Linked DNA regions of Homo sapiens: regions 1, 2, 3, 4 and 6 are each reported to be linked to region 5. The links are microRNA targets in miRTarBase. Many come from high-throughput screens and were not tested one by one. Region 5 holds a microRNA gene; each other region holds the end of a gene's coding sequence.

Region 1 (3,000 bases), not on the chromosome of region 5:
CAATACTAAAAACATTTAAGAAGTCCTTCCAGATTATTTTTTTGACATGAGGTAAAGTATTTACTAGAAGTTTTTTAACTTATGAAATAACATTTTCTAATGTCCTCACCTTATGAATTGTGATATTTGTAATCTAGTTAGCTGAACAATTCTAGACCAGTCCTTGGGAGTCTGATCTGGGTTGGATGATAGATGGACTCGATTCCCCACTCCCTCTCTGTATTGCAGGGAGATTCACATGAAGGTGAAATTAAGAAATTGAATGCTATTTGTATTTTTTCCAAAAACAGGAAAAAATGAATTCCATTCATATTGGTAAATTTTTGTTTTATTGTTTTTCCAATCTAGATTAAAGAGTCTATTGTTGGGGAAATCAGACGGGAAATTGTAAGTGGACTTTTGGCAGCAGTATCTTCAAGTAAAGCGTCTAATTCTAAGCAAGATTATCATTAAACAGAAATTATAGGTAAATTTTTCTGAGTTTCTTTGTTGAGCTAAATGTAAATAGTAACTGGCATTTTATTCTTTGTTTTGTTAGTATACAGGTTTGGTTCTCTAGTTAAATTTTGAGTTTTAGAATGTATGTAATATGTTATTTTACAATGTGAAAATTTCACACAAGCCTATTTGAAGTGTAAGTCAAATCCCATAATACAAATCTCCAAGGAATTACTTATATTGGGTCATTCTACTGAAATTTCATTATAGTAATAAATCCTGGAATTGGACCTTCAAACCTGAATCTTATTTTGATTATAATGGTATTTCAGATGTATAGTTTTAAAGAACAAGATTTTGTGAATTAATCACAACTTCCTTTTTTTTTTTTTTGAGACAGAGTCTCGCTCTGTCGCCCAGGCTGGAGTGCAGTGGCGGGATCTCGGCTCACTGCAAGCTCCGCCTCCCGGGTTCACGCCATTCTCCTGCCTCAGCCTCCCAAGTAGCTGGGACTACAGGCGCCAGCCACTACGCCCGGCTAATTTTTTGTATTTTTTAGTAGAGACGGGGTTTCACCGTTTTAGCCGGGATGGTCTCGATCTCCTGACCTCGTGATCCGCCCGCCTCGGCCTCCCAAAGTGCTGGGATTACAGGCGTGAGCCACCGCGCCCGGCCGAATTAATCACAACTTCTAAGTATCTTTCCTAATTATTTTTATCTTTTAAAGAAACATATCCCATAGATTCATTTCTAATAATAATTTATTTCAAAAAACTCTTTTATATGTCTGTCTTAGTAAAACGAATTACTTTCATTTTATCTCGTAGCTCTAATTACATTAAAAAATTTTTTTGTAGAGATGGGGTCTTGCTATGTTGCCCACGCTAGTCTTAAACTCCTAGCCTCAAGCGATCCTCCTGCTTTAGCTCTAACTTCATTTTATATAATATATATTAATAATAATTCTTGGTGAATGCAAAAAGAAAGAATAAGTTGAGTAGAATAGAACTAAAAATATTCATTGAATAAGACATGAGAAACAAATGTAATTTGAAAAGTATAATATACAATTTCAGATATAGGAAATTGGAAAGTATTTTAATAAATTATGTCACAAAGCAATTAATAGGAATTATTTTTTTTAAAGCCAGGGATATAAGAATTAACTCTCAGGAAGATGTATAGAGATTACAGGATAATCATGTTTCTGTGTATATATATTTGCATAAAATTCTCATCTTCCTTTAAAGAAGCTTTTAATAACAGTATTTGAAAGAGGTTTAAAACTGACTTCTCTTTTCTTTTTTAAGGTTGGCATGGATCCTATTAGCTGTGTAATACTGGAATTATCAATGATATGCACTGGTGGAGGTGTTATTTGTGCTTTAGAAGATACTTGCTGTTGAGCTGGGCTACTGTATACAGTGTACAATGTGTATTTCTTCAACCATATATTTTAAAAAGACGTACATAGAAACTTAGGCACTTTGCTATTTCTTTTCTAAACTATCAAAAACTCTAGCAGTTTGAAAAGCCTAATATTTATTTGTATGTCAGTATTTTTCATTTGATTCCCTATTAGAATTAATTTTAAAACTTGAAGACTTCCAGACTTATCCAACTTATAAATAACATATTTCTTCAGACTAACATCTTAAAACACTGACCTCTATGAGGTATTTACTGTGCAATAACTGATTCATTTTTTTCAGAGCTTGAAGCATCCAATGATTTTTCCCTCCACTGCTGTTAATTAATGTCACTTCCAAGAAGAAAAACTGTTCTGTTGTAAAAAATATAATTGCTCTTAATTCTTGGGGAGGTTACTAATAGCAGTAGGATAGAATTTTATGAGGTTACCTACAACTACTTAATGTACTTACACTGTAAGCCTTGTTGCTTTACCCAAGACAAATGTAATTTTATCATTGCTTATGTAGTATTTTTCTTTTGGAAATGTGCCTTATGTTAAACACTATGTACTTTTACTTTTTGCATTGTCCAGACTTCTTTATTAGATGGAGATGTTTCTTTTTCTGTCTTCTAGACTAAATAGAGTATCATCCAAATAATGGGGCCTATGACTTGAATGAATAGAAATGAATAAGCTGGTGTTTGTTTTTTCAAAATGGAAGTAATTTAGATTTGTTCTCCTCATACATAAAATGATTTTAGTTCAGTTTTAACCAGTGAAAACTTTGTTTTTATGAAAAAAAAGGAAAATGGTTTCCCATTTGGTTTTATATGTGTTAAATAAATGTGTAAAGTAACCACCAAATGTTATTAGAATTTTTCTTCTAGCATTTATAATTTTTTCAACTCCTATTGTGTTTCTTTGTGTGTGATATTTTAATCAAAAGTGGTTGAGTTGTTAACAGTGTTCTTTGAAAGAATCTCTAAAAGGCTTATAAATGTTTGAAATATCACACAAAGGCTGATTTCTAAAATATATATATATTAAAACAATAAAGTATTTATTTTGCCTAAAGTGTTTTAGTGGTTTCTTAAACTGCAACATGAAGATTTTGAATTAGATTTGATAGGTAACAAATGAGGTCCAAA
Region 2 (3,162 bases), not on the chromosome of region 5:
AGGGGAAAGACTGAACACAGAACAGCATTAGGTAAACCAATTGTAGAATGTTTGCATTGATATGAAGTGAGGTAATGGCCTGGTTAACCAATTATTTTTTTAATACTTCCTTTTGTAGGAAGAAGATTTTCAAGAAATGATTAAATCTGCACAGATAATGGAAAGTCAATATGGTCATCTTTTTGACAAAATTATAATAAATGATGACCTCACTGTGGCATTCAATGAGCTCAAAACAACTTTTGACAAATTAGAGACAGAGACCCATTGGGTGCCAGTGAGCTGGTTACATTCATAACTAAGAGAAATTTCCATAATTGTCTTTTTCTATAGAGTGCATGATGAAATCAATTACAGTTTTGGTAGTAGGGTTTTTAAATCTATATCACTGTCATAGATGTACAATCTTGGTTCAAGTTGAATGCTGGTTTTGTTTGTATCTTTTTACAGCCTTATTTCAAACGCCATGTGTTAGTATAAGATCCGAAATCAAAATATGCACAGTACTGTATTCTAAGCAAAACCTCAAACCTTCTCGTTGTCTTCAATACCGCTCTATCTCCAAGATGAGGCTGAAATTTTCAGAGAGACTTAGCTAGAGGCTTAGTATGTATGGGAGTTCAGCGCTTCTGCTGGTCTCAGGTGTGGCTGCTGCTGTCGAGTTTGAATGTTAGCTGTTGAAGGTATCAATTCAGCAGCCATGAGCAGCTCCAGACAGACAGGTGAGCTCTGCTGTTTCTGGGTGGATCATCACAGATTTAGCCGGGCAGGCAGTAAGGTGTCCTCTTACTATTCAAAAAGTGTAGACTTTCTTACATATTCGCAATACGTTCACAGTGTGTGCATTTTAAAATAATTCTTAAAGGAGTAACTGAAATTTTACCTTGAGTGAATGGCCTTCATAATATAGCTTGAGAAGTCCTTTTGAGTACCTGTCAGTGACTCAACAACATTTAATAAGGGAAAGTAGACTTTTAACAGTTATTATATATGTAACGAAAAGCCTTTCCTTTGGGATTAATATAAGTAAGAATGGTAGCCTTGTGGCAAGAAATGATTACAAAGGATATTTTTATTTGTAATTCCTCAGAAGACAATTTATGAAGTCACCCAAAATGTTATTTTAGCTGGTTTTGGATTTTTCCAATAAATTAGAAGAAGGATTTCTATTCTAAAACATGTAAAACCTGTTTTACATATTACTGATACAATTAAAGATTATTTTTCATCTATGTGCAATAGATCACCCCTCTTTAAATTGCTCTAAGATTTATTTTAGAAAACTTTTCATGTGATGTTATTTCTTTGTCATCAAAATGCTTGTTAACACTGTCCAGACACCATCCTAACCTTGCCATTGTTAAAGAAGTTTAGGAAAGACTCTTATATTGTAAATATTTAGATGGGTTCTCTCACTTTTCTTTGATACTACTGATTTTCAGCAAGTGAATTATATAATTCAAAATGCTAGAAATGTCTATCCGTTCTATAAGAGAGCATATCCTGCCGTTCTTGCATGCAGTGAAGCCCTGCCCGTCGAAAATCATTGCATCTGTGACTTTCAAAGTGGAAAAAAAAATGTTATTTTTTTGTTGATTTGTAAAGAGAGTTTAAATGTCATGTGAAAAAAAATAGAATGTAGTAAAATTCTATATATTTATGAAATATTTTAAAGGCATATTTTTTTAAATATCAAACGGGGCTATTCATAAAATAAACTGATTGTATGTCAAGATGTCCTAATTTAAAAGAGTAGTTTTATAAATCATGGTCAACATTCCATGTAAATATTTGAGCTTTACAAAGATAGATCCAAGTGTGCGATCTGTGCACTGCACATTTGATAGCATTATTCACTGGTTTTCCTTCATACTTGTCAAGTTCATATTAGAAGCAGAGACAAAAACCACTCCAATGGCCTTGACACATAGTCACACCAAAATAGATAATCAGACTAAGTATTATATAACAACGTGATCCAGACAGTGAGTTCTAAGTGTATTAATTAAATAGCAAAAAATTTTGTTTTTAAAAAATGAAAGAGGGAGGGTTGCCAACCTGAAGTCTTAAGTAGATTGTTTGGGTAGCATATTTCCTTCTTTGAACATTGTCTGAAATTTTCTATAAATCAAGACTTCTTGTACAAAGAATGATGGGACATATGTAATAATTCAGGCAATCACCTGAGTAATTTAGGCAGTCCAAATTCTTTACCCTGAAATACCCACATTTTAAAAAAATTGCAGATAATTGCTTCAGTTATTTACTTTGGGGACAGAGATATAGTGTAAAGTGGGAGAAACTGAGTCCTTTTTTGGTGGTGGTAATAATAAGATGTTATAAAAATATAACATTTTAAAAAAGAAAGGTCCAGACCTTAAGCGCAGAGCTAGAACAATATTTTTTAAATAATGGGGGGAAAAGGGGGCACTTTGGTAATTTTAGAAATCAGGTAGTATACTTTTTTTTTTTTTTTTGAGACAGGGTCTTGCCATGTTGCTCAGGCTGGTCTTGAACTCCTGGGCTCAAGCAATCCTCCTGCCTTGGCCTCCCAAAGTGCTGGGATTACAGGCATGATCCACCGTGCCCAGCCGGTAGACGTGGTCTTAAAAACAGTGTTTACATGGCCATCTTGATGCTTAGAAAGATAATTGATTAAAATTTAATAAGGCAGGGCCAACTCCGAGAGTTCATTGACAACGGCAGCAAAAAGGCCCTGAATTCTGTACTTTCTTCCCCCAGCCTCCTTCTCCAGCAAGGAGAATAGCACTCCTCCCTCCAGAAGCCAGCTCCCTAAGTTGGAGCCACTATGTAAGAGAAGAGGAACGTTCACTTTTTAAAATTCATATATTTAAAAATCAAGACCAAAAAGTAAATTCTGTACTCCTATTATTGACTGTAGTCAATCAAACATAAAAAGGTGAAAGTAAAATTTAATTTTTTACCCTTATTTTACTGACCAATATGGAAGTTCTTGGTATCTTTAAGGCTGACCTTCCTGGTATTGTGTAATGATTGAATGTATCTAAACTGTAATAATTTGAAACTGACAAACATAACCTTCTCAGACTTACAAAACTATGTTCTTTCTAAAGATACAGATTTTTATTATTTTATTTTGACTAGGAAGGATTTATAAATAAATGTAATGAAAAATCTTTG
Region 3 (3,162 bases), not on the chromosome of region 5:
CATGAGTTACAAGTATAATACCATATACATAGCGCTTTTAGCTCCAGTTTTTTTTTTTTTTTTTAAAGAGGTGGGGTGGGGATGGAGTAGGAAGAATGTGCTTTTAATAGTTCTAATAGAAAGTAAATTTTACGAACTCTATTAAGAAAAGAAGGATGATCTGCTGTGTTGCTGAATGTGATATTTTTGGCAGCATGTACTGCTGATATGCAGCATTCTGGTAAATGACAATTATATACCTGAGTCTACTGTTGTAGGCCAGTTTATTTTGGTTTTATATAGGTAATAATCTAAAGTGAATTGAGGAGACATTGTAATTCATTCATTCATTCTTTTTTTTTTCTTTTTAGTGCTGTAATTACAACAATTAACCATGATGAAGTTTGGTTTAAGAGGCCTGATGGAAGCAAATCTAAGCTTTACATTTCACAGCTACAGAAAGGAAAATATTCAATTAAACATTCATAATCATGATTTAAGTGTTATCTAAATTTACCTTATTAGTGTTACCAAATGTAAGTGCCATGAGAGTAAAAAAATGTATTCAATAACTTAATATTCTCACTGAATCATGAGAGAATGTGTATTTGTAGGTAGTACTCTAAATAGATCTCATTGATATGTTATTAAAAGAAACAGTAATAAAAATTTTATCACGATCCTTACGTTGATTTGCCTCTTAGGTCCGATGACCAATAGGTATTCTGTATATGGTAGGGGTTTCTTTCTAAACATTTTTCTTTGGTTTTAAAAAAAGTTATGCAAATTTGTCTTATCTTTAGTAAACTATGACTACATTTATCTGCAATTTTTAAAATTTTCCATATCTTTGTCATTCATTGTGTGTTTGTAAATAAGGCCGATAGAATGTTTCCTATAAATGGTTTGTACTAGTACATTAGTGTTAAACCAGAACTGAAATTTAAACATATATATATATGAGGATGTATATATGGCATCATCAGCTTATTTAGAACTGATGGCCATACCTTACAATCTTGTTTTACCCAAAATTAAGCTATTGGGGTTGAAAGCTAAAAGGAGCACTTTTGTAGAATAGCAACTTTTCTTTTCCTCTTTCTTGATTGTATGGTGGGGTGGTGACCTATTTTTACAAATTATACCTAATGAGTAAAATTAGTGTAAAGTGATAACATGCTTCTACCTGTATTTCTAGTGACCCTTTAGCGGCAGGTATTTATACCTGGTATTTATGATGCAGTATATAAGTGGTGAACAATAACTGACAGTATTGTGCTTGCTGTACATGTCTGGTCTTTTGAAACAGATTTTAGTAAGCATTTTCCAGAGGTAAAACTGTGTCCTTATTCTAATTTTATTCCTAGGGCAAAGTAGACAGGGATTATTTCCTTGAATCTATTTCCAAATTAATATTTTTTTCTTTGGTATTTCTACACTTTAAGGCCATTTGGTGCAATTTAGAAAGTGTTGGCCTCCCTTCCGCTAGCCACATTCAAAATTAACTTCCAAAACCTCAGGAACAGTACAAAGAATTGAAACCCTCAATATGGCAGCACAGCCGGCTGTAGTGTATATTTAGGGTACACCAAATCAGGTATTCCTGGTGGTCTTGTGCACTTTAATTTCTGTTACAATGAGTTAAGAGGATGAGGAAGAAATCTACTTATTAACACTTACTGCAGAAATGTCTGCATTATTCCGTTTGTTTTCTTATTATTTTACCTCTCCAAACATCTTCCTGTGCAGATCACTACTTCATAGTTGCCAAATTTTAAAACACTTAACTGCTGAAATTCAGTGTCAGCAAAGTGATATTACGTTGTTCTGTTTCTAATTAACCTTAGCAAATGTACATAATGTCAAAACCCAATAGTATTTGACAGTACTTATGTATACAATGTTTGATAAGCATTTTTAATAAGATTTGTATTTTTAAATTTAGTATATAATAAAAAGATGTGTTTCAGTGTGATTTGTAGTGTCTTGGATTACTTATGTGTATTTAGTTCTTTTTATAACCTATCCACTTGTAAGAAAGATTTGAATTGGTTTACGTTAATAGATATGGAGTAGGCTGGGTGCAGTGGCTCATACCTGTAACCTCAGCACTTTCTGGGGTATATTTAGATGTTCAAGACAGCTAAGTTATACTTAATTTTAAAATATATGCATATGTGTTGTACTTTGATTAAAAGGTACTGTATAAGTTAATGAAATTCTAAATAGAAAATCTTTATTTTTTTATTTTTATTTTTTGAGATGGAGTCTTGCTCTGTCACCCAGGCTGGAGTGCAGTGGCACGATCTTGGCTCACTGCAACATCTGCCTCCCAGGCTCAAGTGATTCTCCTGCCTCAGCCTCCTGAGTAGCTGGGATTACAGGTGTGCACCATCACACCTGGCTAATTTGTATATTTTTAGTAGAGACAGGTTTTTGCCATGTTGGCCAGGCTGGTCTCAAACTCCTGACCTCAGGTGATCCGCACACCTTGGCCTCCCAAAGTGCTGGGATTATAGGCATGAGCCATCACACCTGGCCTAGGAAATCTTTATTTTAAAACTATGATTTAGTACATTTATTTTCAAAACTTTAGTATTTATATCTTATGTAGTATTCTACCATAATATTAAGATTCATAAAAGCATATGCTTATCTATGACTAAAATGCTATAAAATATATTGTCTTATTGGCAGTTTGCCATTAGTTGTCTGGTCATAAAGTTTAATTTAGGAAAATTATTAGAAACTCCAAAATGTGATGTAGTGGCTGCTGCTGCTCCTGTGTTTATGATCAGCTTCTGTCTCAGGATCATTTCTTGACCTTTATTGTCACAGCTCCTAGTTTTTCATGTTCAATCCATCCCCTCCTTGCTGTTTCCCATTTTTTAAAAAGAGATACTATCTAAGTATCACTAATGCAATTCTTCAACTAATAATTATTGGCAAATAGTAATGGCACACTCCTGATTTGTCCCCTTTTTCACTGTTCATATTGGTGGGCTGGACACAGTACTTTTTTGCAGCCTTCTTCATGTAAAAGTTGTTCTGATGTATGCATTACTTGGAACACCAGTTGCAGAACCATGTATGCCTCATTAATAATTATTTAAAAAGAAGAAAAACTTCCAAAGATTCAGGAACAGTAGAAAGAATTGAACCTTTAATATGGCAGCACAACTG
Region 4 (3,000 bases), not on the chromosome of region 5:
AAACTTAAAGTCCTTAATTAAAAACAACAACACAATTGCAAGTTGACAAATAAGACAAAATCCCTTGCAAAAAATAATCATTAAAAACTAGTAGTTACAGAATATATTTTTACACTGATTTTTGAAAATGAAATTTTGTGTTAAAATCATAAAATAAAAAGCATAAAATAGAAGCTATTAATTATGTTGTAATGGTAAATACTGGATTTGGGCTGCTATTTTAATGGTATTTATTCTGCATAATATGCATAATATATCTATGTGGTCCCATATTCATTTATCCTATTTAGAATTGCTTTCTTTTTTCTTTTTTTTTTTTTTTGAGACGGCATCTTGTTTTGTTGCCCAGGTTGGAGTGCAGTGGCACGATCTCGGCTCACTGCGATCTCCGCCTCCCGGGTTCAAGCAATTCTCCTGCCTCAGCCTCCTGAGTAGCTGGGATTAGAGATGTGTGCCACCACGCCTGGCTAATTTTTGTATTTTTAAGAGAGATGCGGTCTCACCGTGTTGGCCAAGCTTGTCTCAAACTCCTGACCTCAAATGATCCACCTGCCTCCCAAAGTGCTGGGATTACACAGGTGTGAGCCACCACCCCCAGCATTTCTTCTATTTAGAATTTCTAAGAGCAAGCAGAATGTCATTTCTCTAACTATTAAATGATTATCCAGAAGCAAAAGTACAGCACAGGAAGATAATATTTATTATATTTTAACTAGAAACAGAGCAGATAGCAAGTTCACCAGGTAAAAATTTTTTTTCTTAAATTATGCTTAAACAACAATAATAAAAAACAAGTCTGCATGTATATTTTGGTCACTATTATGATCTTCCAGGGCACAAAAGCCAGCAGCATAAAGAAACATGAATAATGACTGAGAATTTTTGATGTGCCAAAAACAAAGATCACTGCATTAAACTCCTTTATTTTGTTAATATTATTCTTAAACATTGAACAATTATTAATTATTGTTATTTGGCAAAATATCAAACATGCACATAGTATTCCTACAAGAATATTGCCTTAATATTGTCAATATTAACGCTAAGCTTATTCCTCTCCAAAATTCAATGAGTTATGGTTCCGCTCTCTATATGTATTAGTGTTAGTGGTAATATGCAAAACTGATTTTGTTTTCAGGGTTAAGTAGCAGATTGACTTCGCATTTGGTGGCCAGCTGTGTACCCTAATTTTTCATCTATTTTCTTAATAAATTTAATTACATTTCATAAGCCCTGAGATAACGTGCTAAGGATTGTATACTTTTAATCTATACTTTATTCCACTCAATTTGAACCCCACATAATAAGTCTTTTAAGTTATTTACAGATGGTTGTAACTAAAGCAATGACAAAATTTACTACTTGTATAGGTAAGACTGATAATAAGGCCTTTAACTAAGAGTTGCATATTTTATATGCACTTTTAACTTGCTAGGAGCAACTCTTAAAATTACATCTATAATTCTGTCAGAAAGCAATAAGTGCTTTTCATTTTGCTTACTTCCATATGTGTAACCAGATTCACTTTTTTCCTCCCTTGTAAAACAACTACTTTCTTTTCCTTCCCCAAATATTAATACGTCTTCCAACTGAACAATTGCTAAAAGGAACTTAGCATTTGCACAGCACATTGACAACTATGGTGCTTAGCAGAGACATATGCCCATAATAGGCATCTGATAAATGTTTGTTCCACATGGAATGAGTGAATTGTAAGGCAGCTGTTTGAGTCATACACTGTTCATCATATACTGCAACTAATTTTATTTAACTAGGAAATTCAGTTTACCAGATTTAATTTACCCTCAAGTGTAAATCCAAAAATTTGAAATTAAAAAAAATTGATTTACTAATCCTCAGAAAAAGTAAACAAGTTAATCATAGTTGTTACTATACTATTAGTTGATAGAAAATTAAAAAAATTATTACTTTCCACTAAATATTAAGTACAACTGAGGGGAAGAAAGTTTAAAAAAACTTAAAAATGTTAGCTAATTCTCATCATTTTCTCCACATTTATCCTTGCAGCTTTTTTGTTCATATATTTATTCCTGTTAACTTCTCTAGCTGAAAGAGAATTTTATTATCTGAATGGAGTTCCCCATCACCTTAGGTACAAAATATTAGTGAAAAGCTGGTGTAAATATAAGATTGTATTTTCATGTCATGCCATATTTCTAAATTTATTTTTTGCTAGCATTAAATTTTTCCTATTTAAACGATGCTGTATAGAATATGAGCTAATCTGCCAATTACTATGATATTGCTTGCTTATAATATTCAGTTTTTGTTGATAGCTTTAAAGCATATTGCACGCTTTTCATCTAGCACACTAGTAAACAACTATTACTCTTTTTGGAAAGGATACACTGACAAATTCTTAAGTTAATGGCTTTAGCCCAACATTTTTAGTCAGTTAAAGAACAATAGCAATGGCAAAAACGTTGACAATACAGTTCATGGTCCGGTTCTCCCATCTTACGGTACAGGTTCCTGAAACACAAAAAAAGGATTTTGAAATACCAGCAAAACATAAAAATTATCAGAGAATATATATATATATATACACACACACACACACACACACACATATACACACACACACACACACACACACACACACACACACACATATATATATATATATATACACATACATTTTTCACATGTTTTAATATCTTATTTCCTTCAACCTGTTAAGTTTTCACATTTCATATCGGTCTGAAGGTATACTTGTTACTAGGTACAAAGCAATACTGTTGATAGTCTTTTCAGAATTTAATCAGAATTAAATAAGTACTTGGTTAAAAAGTGCAGTTTGACTTTGCTAAAAGTTGGATTTTGTGTAAATCAGCTTAAGATCTCTTACCATCAGATGTGGTATCCCAAAAACAGGAGCTGGCTGTGTGAAAGCCATATGCGCTCTTCTGGACCACTGCACAGGTCACTGCAAATAAAGTCACAGAATGAGGGCACTTACAGACAAAGGAAAAGAGAACC
Region 5 (3,162 bases):
AGAACTTTTGCTAAGTTCTCTCCCCTTTTCCTACTAGCAAGGCCTGGGTAAGATCTTCACCAATACCTTGTTTCCGCGATTGGCTGTCAAGTGGGATTAAAAAAAATGCTCTTAACACCTGTATAGTGTCCTCAGGTATCCACACAGGGGCCATCTATAAAGATTCCAGATTTGGGAGTATATTATCCAGTGTAACAGCAATTGGGGTGAAGCTGTTTCGAAGGAAGTACCAGCTATAGCTTCCCTCCTAAGTCCTATATGACCATTGACTATCATCTTTGCTGAATAAATGAAATGATGAAAATTCTAGCAATAGATAATCTTTTGTTTATCTAGGTGATATCTTTCTGACTCAGAAAAGCTTTTGCAAATGCTCTACCAAAAAGGAAGGCTAATCTTTTATCTTCCCAGTGGGGTAAAGCTATTTATTGTAGCAGCCATATCAAAGGCTGGTAGGAATTCTCCAGTCAGTGTGGCTTAAGCCAAGCTTTGCAGAAAAATATCTACCTTGTTCATAAAGAACTTCAAGAAAGATGATGCTTCCATTTTCCTCAAGTAATCTTCATTGTTACTGACTCTTATTCTTAGAAAAATGTTTCTATTTTCACATCACAGCTTTTGAATTTTCTCTTGTTCTGCTTTCTTACAGCAGACCATCCTCTAAATGTCTGTCACCTTTTTTCATACCAAATATGCCACCTTTTTTGTTTTAAACTTAATTCCTAGCTGTTGTGTTTGCCAGTCAGTGGTAAGTAAAGCTGTTAGTCACACCTAGGTTCAGCTGATTGAAAGCACATACTCTGTTACACCATGATGCCTTCTTTCAAGAGGAGCTGGTTAGGGAAGATCATGACTTATATTTGTGGACATAAGAGGGTGGCATTTAGAAATTCAGGTCTTTGGCTCAGGAGAGAATTTGAGATTACAAAGAGTGCTGTCATCTACAGCGATATGAGGAAATCAGTCTTTTACAAATTAGATTCGACTTCCCTTCTTGGGAGTGCATACACTAATTATGTATTATAACAGTAGCTTATGTCTTGGTTCCATAGTATACTGGCATTTAAAAACCATTTGTTTTATTATCACCTTATTTTAAATACAGAAAAAATTTTAACAACCTTTGGTACCAGAACTATAATCTAATGGTTCTCAGAATTGATAGATTTTTATGAGTCTGATAAATATGGTACAGACTAAAGAATGGGTTATGGCCTGAGACATTTTTCTAACCAAAGCTATATCAAGTTATGTAATTTTAAGGCTATAATTCAAGGTGTTTTTTTTGCAGTTTAAGTTCCTAGGGCTGTTTCTTTACTGGCTCAAATTCAAGACTTAAAATGTACAGATTTTACAGAGATTCCTCTGAAGAGCTTTCTCCTGTGGAGAAGATGGTAGTGAGTTCTCTTTCTAAGAGCTCCTGTTGGATTTTTCATCCTGAAGGTTTGTGTTGAAGAGGCAATATGTTTCTTCATGGAAAAAGATTTTGAGGGAAAAATAAGTGGTTATTTATAATTTATGAATGACTATGAAAATATTGTAATGTCCTCAAAGTGCAGTTTAGCCTACAAATATCAGTGATACCAACTTTTATAAGCATCAGTCATTAATCATCATCTATGTTGCAGCTAAGTGGAAATCATTACATTCATTTATATGATCTGTGAATAAGTCAAAAATGGAATTGAAATTGGGGGTTAATTGCATGACCAGACAGTGATAGTGTCTGTTCGTGAAGCTTTGCCTTCTGAAGTATGTGGTTTCTTTATGATCACTATCTCATTGAAGTTTTGAACCTTACTCATTATTTTGATTCTGAATAAGTATTCTTCTCAGTTGAATACATTTGCAATTGGGTTTTCATTTCATGAAGTTTTGAGTCAGTGGCATGCATCCTTTATCCCCAGACCATTTTCCTCTCTTCAGCAGCATGTTGTCTCCTGAATGTATACATCACACCCTTCTTCCCTGATGCTCCCATTCTGCTTGCTCTGGTGGAGATATTGCACATTACTAAGTTGCATGTTGTCACGGCCTCAATGCAATTTAGTGTGTGTGATATTTTCACATGAGTGCATGCACACGGGTATGGCTCTTGCTTGCTGGGATTACAGCTTTTCAGTGCCAGTGGGTGGGTGTCCTGATGAATTAGATAAGACAGTGTGTATGCCATGCGATTCTCATTTGGAAAGTGAACATGCTTCCCATCGGTACCTTCCAATTTTGGAGAATTAAAAGTATTTGGATTAAAAAAAGTCAGCAATGATCATTTAGTAAATCAGTGTTTCCATTTTTTACTTTGAGCAAATGAAATATTTATTACAAATTCTCATTGATTTAAGAGTATAAACAATATTTAAATGTATAAGGAAGAATGTAAAGCTGTAAGAAAATGTATTTTCATTTATTTGAAGAAATCTCTCCCAACACTGGAATAGAGAAGCAGAAATCTCTTATGCATATTTGGGGAAATTAAATTAACTGGAGTTCTTAAATAATAATCAAGACAGTAAAGGTATGCTTAACCTACCTGATGAAAGATTCATCTCATAAACTTAAGTTTCCAAGGTAAATTACCTTAAAAATGTGTCTTTTACTTTCTCATTGTGATGCTTCGAAAACTGCTAAATTCATTTTAGTGGGCTAATAATGGAACTAGTTTTGAAATACACGTTTACTATTTGCCTATGTAATTGAAACAACCCCTTGTTATTTTTTTAGTTAGCATTAGAGTAAGCATCCACAATCACTAGGCATTGTCAAGGACACAAAACCATGTATTACTGTATGAAAATATTGAATTAATATTTACTACTACCATAGCCTCCAGATGATCTATTGTGATGCTGTCATTGTATGTTTCTGTGTTTCACCACTGTTTTGGAGGGTGAGAATGGAAGAATTCCACGTAAGCAGCTCATCCCCTGTGCCCTTCAGCAGCTCGGCCGTTCCCCTCATGCTGGAAATCTAATGTCAGCCAGGTTGCTATATGACACCCTGTGGAGCTGGGTTTCCAGGGCAGATTAATCAAGAAAGGGAAGATGTGACCTCTCAAGGGAGGTTGGGGCTGGGAAGGGGTGGGTAGAGAGAGATTTGTTAAAGGATACAAAAATTACTTAGAAGGCATAAGTTCTAATGTTCTACAGCACTGTAGAATGACTG
Region 6 (3,130 bases), not on the chromosome of region 5:
CTGGGGAGGGGGGGCAGGCTCTTGGTGAGAAGTGGAGCCAGCTGGAAAGGCAGAAGCTTGGCAGACCGAGAAGGGGCTTCCTCTGGACCCTTGTTGGGACAAGAGAGACTGGAGAAGCAAAAGGGCCCGGGAGAAACATTGAGTCCATTTTAGGGAGGGCTGCCTGGATGTGGCCAGGACAGAGGACCGACTGGGCTTTTCTAGGCATGAGTAGGGGAGGCTGAGAGGTGGACAGGATGAAAAGGAGGTTGGGGGTATTGGGATATTTGCAGGAAGAGGTCTCCAGGAGAAATGAGGAGTGGCCGTCACCTCTCTGCCTAAGCCCAAATGACACCTCAGCTGTCCCCTCTGGAGAATGGAAAGTTATAGGACATGGCTGGAGGTCAGGAGACTTGGGCCGCTAATTCAGACACTGACCTGCTCTGGGCTCCTGGGAAGAGGCTGGAGGGGAGACACAGGGAAGAAGGAGGGTGGGGAACACCAGTGGCTTCCCTGTCTGGGCCTCAGTTTCCCAGAAGTATAATGGGGAGGAAACAAGAGCCCAGGCTCTGAGGCCCACTAAGAAATGAAGGGCGGGCGGTGCACTCTGTATCTCAGGACATGAATGCCGGCCTCTCTTTCCTTCCCCAGTACCAGAGCATCTTAGAAAATCACCTCACAGAATCCATCAAGCTCTCGCCAGACCAGTCAAGGAGCAGATGCTGCTGACCTCCAGACGCCTGCTCTGGAAGCCCAGAAACAGAGCCTGCCCCGAGCCTGGTCACCCCAGGCTTGAGAACAGGTGACCATCCCCCTCCAGCCCCACTGCCTGCCCAAGCACAGTGCAGGGGGCCTAAGCTCTGCGGCAGAGCCCTTGACCCTGGTGCTGGGCCCAGAGTCAGAGGGCAGCCCCTGGCTCAGGCTGAGTATAGTGAGAGCGTCTGGATGAAGCCCGGAATGTCAGAGCCAAACCCTGGTCCTGCAGAAGTCACCGTTTCCGCAGTGGCTCCAGCTTTCCCCACCCATCCACCCCTCAAACACTCCCGCTCCAGAACACACATCTCCGCAGACCGGCCACTGATTGGAGTCTGGTTACATCCTCCTGTGGACAGACCTTCCTCACCCGCTCCCACCTCACACCCCTCAGCCACAAGCAAAGCTTTGGACAATGGCACAGCTCAGCCTCCTTCAACGAGCAGACTAAGGAGTAAAGGTCTGGACCCCACATGCTGGGCCCGCCTCAGCTCCTGGCAGAAGCTGTCGTGCCTGAGACCCCCTCTGCTCCCTCCAGGGTAGAAGACTGAGGGAGCACAGGAGAAGCCACAAGGGACCATGGCTCATTCCTCCTTGCTGGGTGCTCAGGCAACTCACATAAATCTCTGAGTCTCAATTTGTTTATCTGTCCTGTGGGGGTGAGATGTGCCTTGCCCCCTGTATCACAGTGTGGTTTTGAGGACCAGAAGCTGTGCTTAAATCCAGTAGCTGTTGTCAATATGCATTTATTTACTTCTTTGACAAGTTTATTTTTGCGTATCTACTATGTACGATGCATTGAAGTCCAGTGACAAACAAAACACAGGGACTCTGCCCTCCTGGAGCCGACATCTGGTGAGGGAGAGACGCAGACTCTAGACAGATATTTCCAAATAGCAGGTAAGTGCTATAAACAAAGGGAAACAGGGTAATGGGATAGAGTGACAGGGGGTGGGATGAGTTGCTATTTTAGATGAAGTGGTCCAGGAGGGCTTCCCTGAGGAGGTGGCATTTGGTCTGAGGGCTAGAGAATGAGAAAGCAGCTGTCACCTGAGAGCTGGAGAAAGAACATTCCAGGGAGAGGGAGCATCAAGACCCAAAGCCCTGAGGCAAAAACAAGCTTGCCATGTTCCAGGAACAGTGAAAGGACATCCATTGACCTAATACTCAAAGCTGCTGTCCCAAAGACAAAGCAAAGGGGACCCAGCTCCCTTGGGTGGCTCCTAGATGCTCTGCTGCCTGACCACCAGAGGGCAGCAGTGCTCCTTCTCTTCCAGGCTGAGCAGAAAGTGGATGCTCATGAAGGTTTTAGGAGCTGGGGTTTTGTCCTTCAGATGCTCAAAGCTTGTTCATGGGCTTGGAGGCATGTTTAGCCCTTTGGGATTTGTAAGGCAGAGAATTCCAATTTCTTAAGCCTAGTAAGAAATGAGCAAAAACTTCAATATATATGACTCAGGCAAGAAATCAGCATCTGTGGCAAATACTAGAATGAAATGCAAGAAAGCTCACTGCAAGGAGTCTCCCTCCCTGCAGATTCCAAGGCTGGAATCTTTTTCTTCTGGCTCCAGGCAGCACAGACAGGGCCTAGCCTGGAGAGGGTGGACAAGATGTCCTCTCAGGGTCTTCAATGGCCAAGTCCATGCCCACTGCAGAATCTTTCTGTCTACCCGTAAGTATCCTTTCCTGAGTTCCAGGCAAAGCTGGGGATGTTAGCCTATGACTGTCATCTGACTTGGAAGGTACACCTAGGGGCCGGGGGGAGGTCAGCAGGGGAGTTTGGGAGCCACTTCTCCCCCCACGTGGCACTGGAGTGTGAACTGGCTCATTCTGGACACCAGCATGGAGCCAGCACGGGAACAGGGGGGCAGCCTAGAGCACAAGCTCTATCTGTGTCCTTCAGAGCTCCTGGGAAACATGATGCGCCCTCATGGGAATGGCATTTTGCATATCACACAGGCTGTCCTGGGAGTCAGGCAGACTGGATTGTCACGTGCGGTGTGCATGCAGCAGCTTGTGCACTGCAGTGGACCTGTGGACCATTTCTAAAGGTGCACAACAAATAATAAATGTGTCCTTCTTTGTTTTTATCTTTTGTGCGACTTAGATTTTATATTTTTAAAAATACATCTACGTGGTTCGATATGAAAAAGATACTAAAGGGCAGACAACTAAAAGTGAACTGAGACTGGCTACATAATTTACAGAACCCGGTGCAAAATGGAGATCCGGGTCTCTTGTTCAGACATTATTGAGTTTCAAGACAGCAACAACAGAGCCTACGATCAAGGATGGGCCCCACTGAGGGCAGGTCACTCATTCATGGAATCAATCCTTAGCAAACAATGAGTCTCAGACACACTGAAGCTAGAATGGAAAAGATTCTGAGTCTGCAAGAGGC

The links. The annotated mature microRNA hsa-miR-32-5p reads UAUUGCACAUUACUAAGUUGCA and lies in region 5 at 2,002-2,023, shown strand. An mRNA with a match to its seed (bases 2 to 7 or 8) in the 3' UTR can be bound and repressed. Matches are read on the target gene's strand: a 7mer-m8 pairs with bases 2 to 8, a 7mer-A1 pairs with bases 2 to 7 and ends in A, and an 8mer does both.
Region 1: the mRNA of ITPRID2 is a reported target of hsa-miR-32-5p. Seed matches in the 3' UTR shown: 8mer at 2,124-2,131.
Region 2: miRTarBase lists MPP7 as a target of hsa-miR-32-5p. Seed matches in the 3' UTR shown: 8mer at 1,234-1,241.
Region 3: the mRNA of BRMS1L is a reported target of hsa-miR-32-5p. Seed matches in the 3' UTR shown: 7mer-m8 at 1,433-1,439.
Region 4: the mRNA of DYNLT3 is a reported target of hsa-miR-32-5p. Seed matches in the 3' UTR shown: 8mer at 2,308-2,315.
Region 6: miRTarBase lists RAB7B as a target of hsa-miR-32-5p. The part of its 3' UTR that is shown has no 7-base or 8-base seed match.

What each region holds. Positions count from the first base shown.
Region 1 is chr2:181,927,813-181,930,812 of GRCh38, forward strand. It overlaps ITPRID2 (ITPR interacting domain containing 2), which reads left to right. Exons shown (of 18, transcript NM_001130445.3): 17 at 349-466; 18 at 1,749-2,926. The coding sequence ends at 453. Among named protein-coding and RNA genes, the nearest start is that of ITPRID2, 38 kb to the left of the region's middle.
Region 2 is chr10:28,051,201-28,054,362 of GRCh38, reverse strand. It overlaps MPP7 (MAGUK p55 scaffold protein 7), which reads left to right. Exons shown (of 17, transcript NM_001318170.2): 17 at 119-3,162. The coding sequence ends at 298. Among named protein-coding and RNA genes, the nearest start is that of SNORD130, 21 kb to the left of the region's middle.
Region 3 is chr14:35,870,010-35,873,171 of GRCh38, forward strand. BRMS1L (BRMS1 like transcriptional repressor) reads left to right here. Exons shown (of 10, transcript NM_032352.4): 10 at 351-1,954. The coding sequence ends at 468. Among named protein-coding and RNA genes, the nearest start is that of BRMS1L, 45 kb to the left of the region's middle.
Region 4 is chrX:37,838,159-37,841,158 of GRCh38, forward strand. It overlaps DYNLT3 (dynein light chain Tctex-type 3), which reads right to left. Exons shown (of 5, transcript NM_006520.3): 4 at 2,870-2,947; 5 at 678-2,493. The coding sequence ends at 2,417. Among named protein-coding and RNA genes, the nearest start is that of DYNLT3, 7.9 kb to the right of the region's middle.
Region 5 is chr9:109,045,133-109,048,294 of GRCh38, reverse strand. MIR32 (microRNA 32) reads left to right here and starts at 1,997; the gene lies at 1,997-2,066. All of the region lies in intron 14 of TMEM245 (transmembrane protein 245), which reads left to right.
Region 6 is chr1:205,976,429-205,979,558 of GRCh38, reverse strand. It overlaps RAB7B (RAB7B, member RAS oncogene family), which reads left to right. Exons shown (of 6, transcript NM_001164522.3): 6 at 631-2,819. The coding sequence ends at 708. It overlaps SLC26A9-AS1 (SLC26A9 and RAB7B antisense RNA 1), which reads right to left. Exons shown (of 4, transcript NR_110984.1): 4 at 1,464-3,130. Among named protein-coding and RNA genes, the nearest start is that of RAB7B, 25 kb to the left of the region's middle.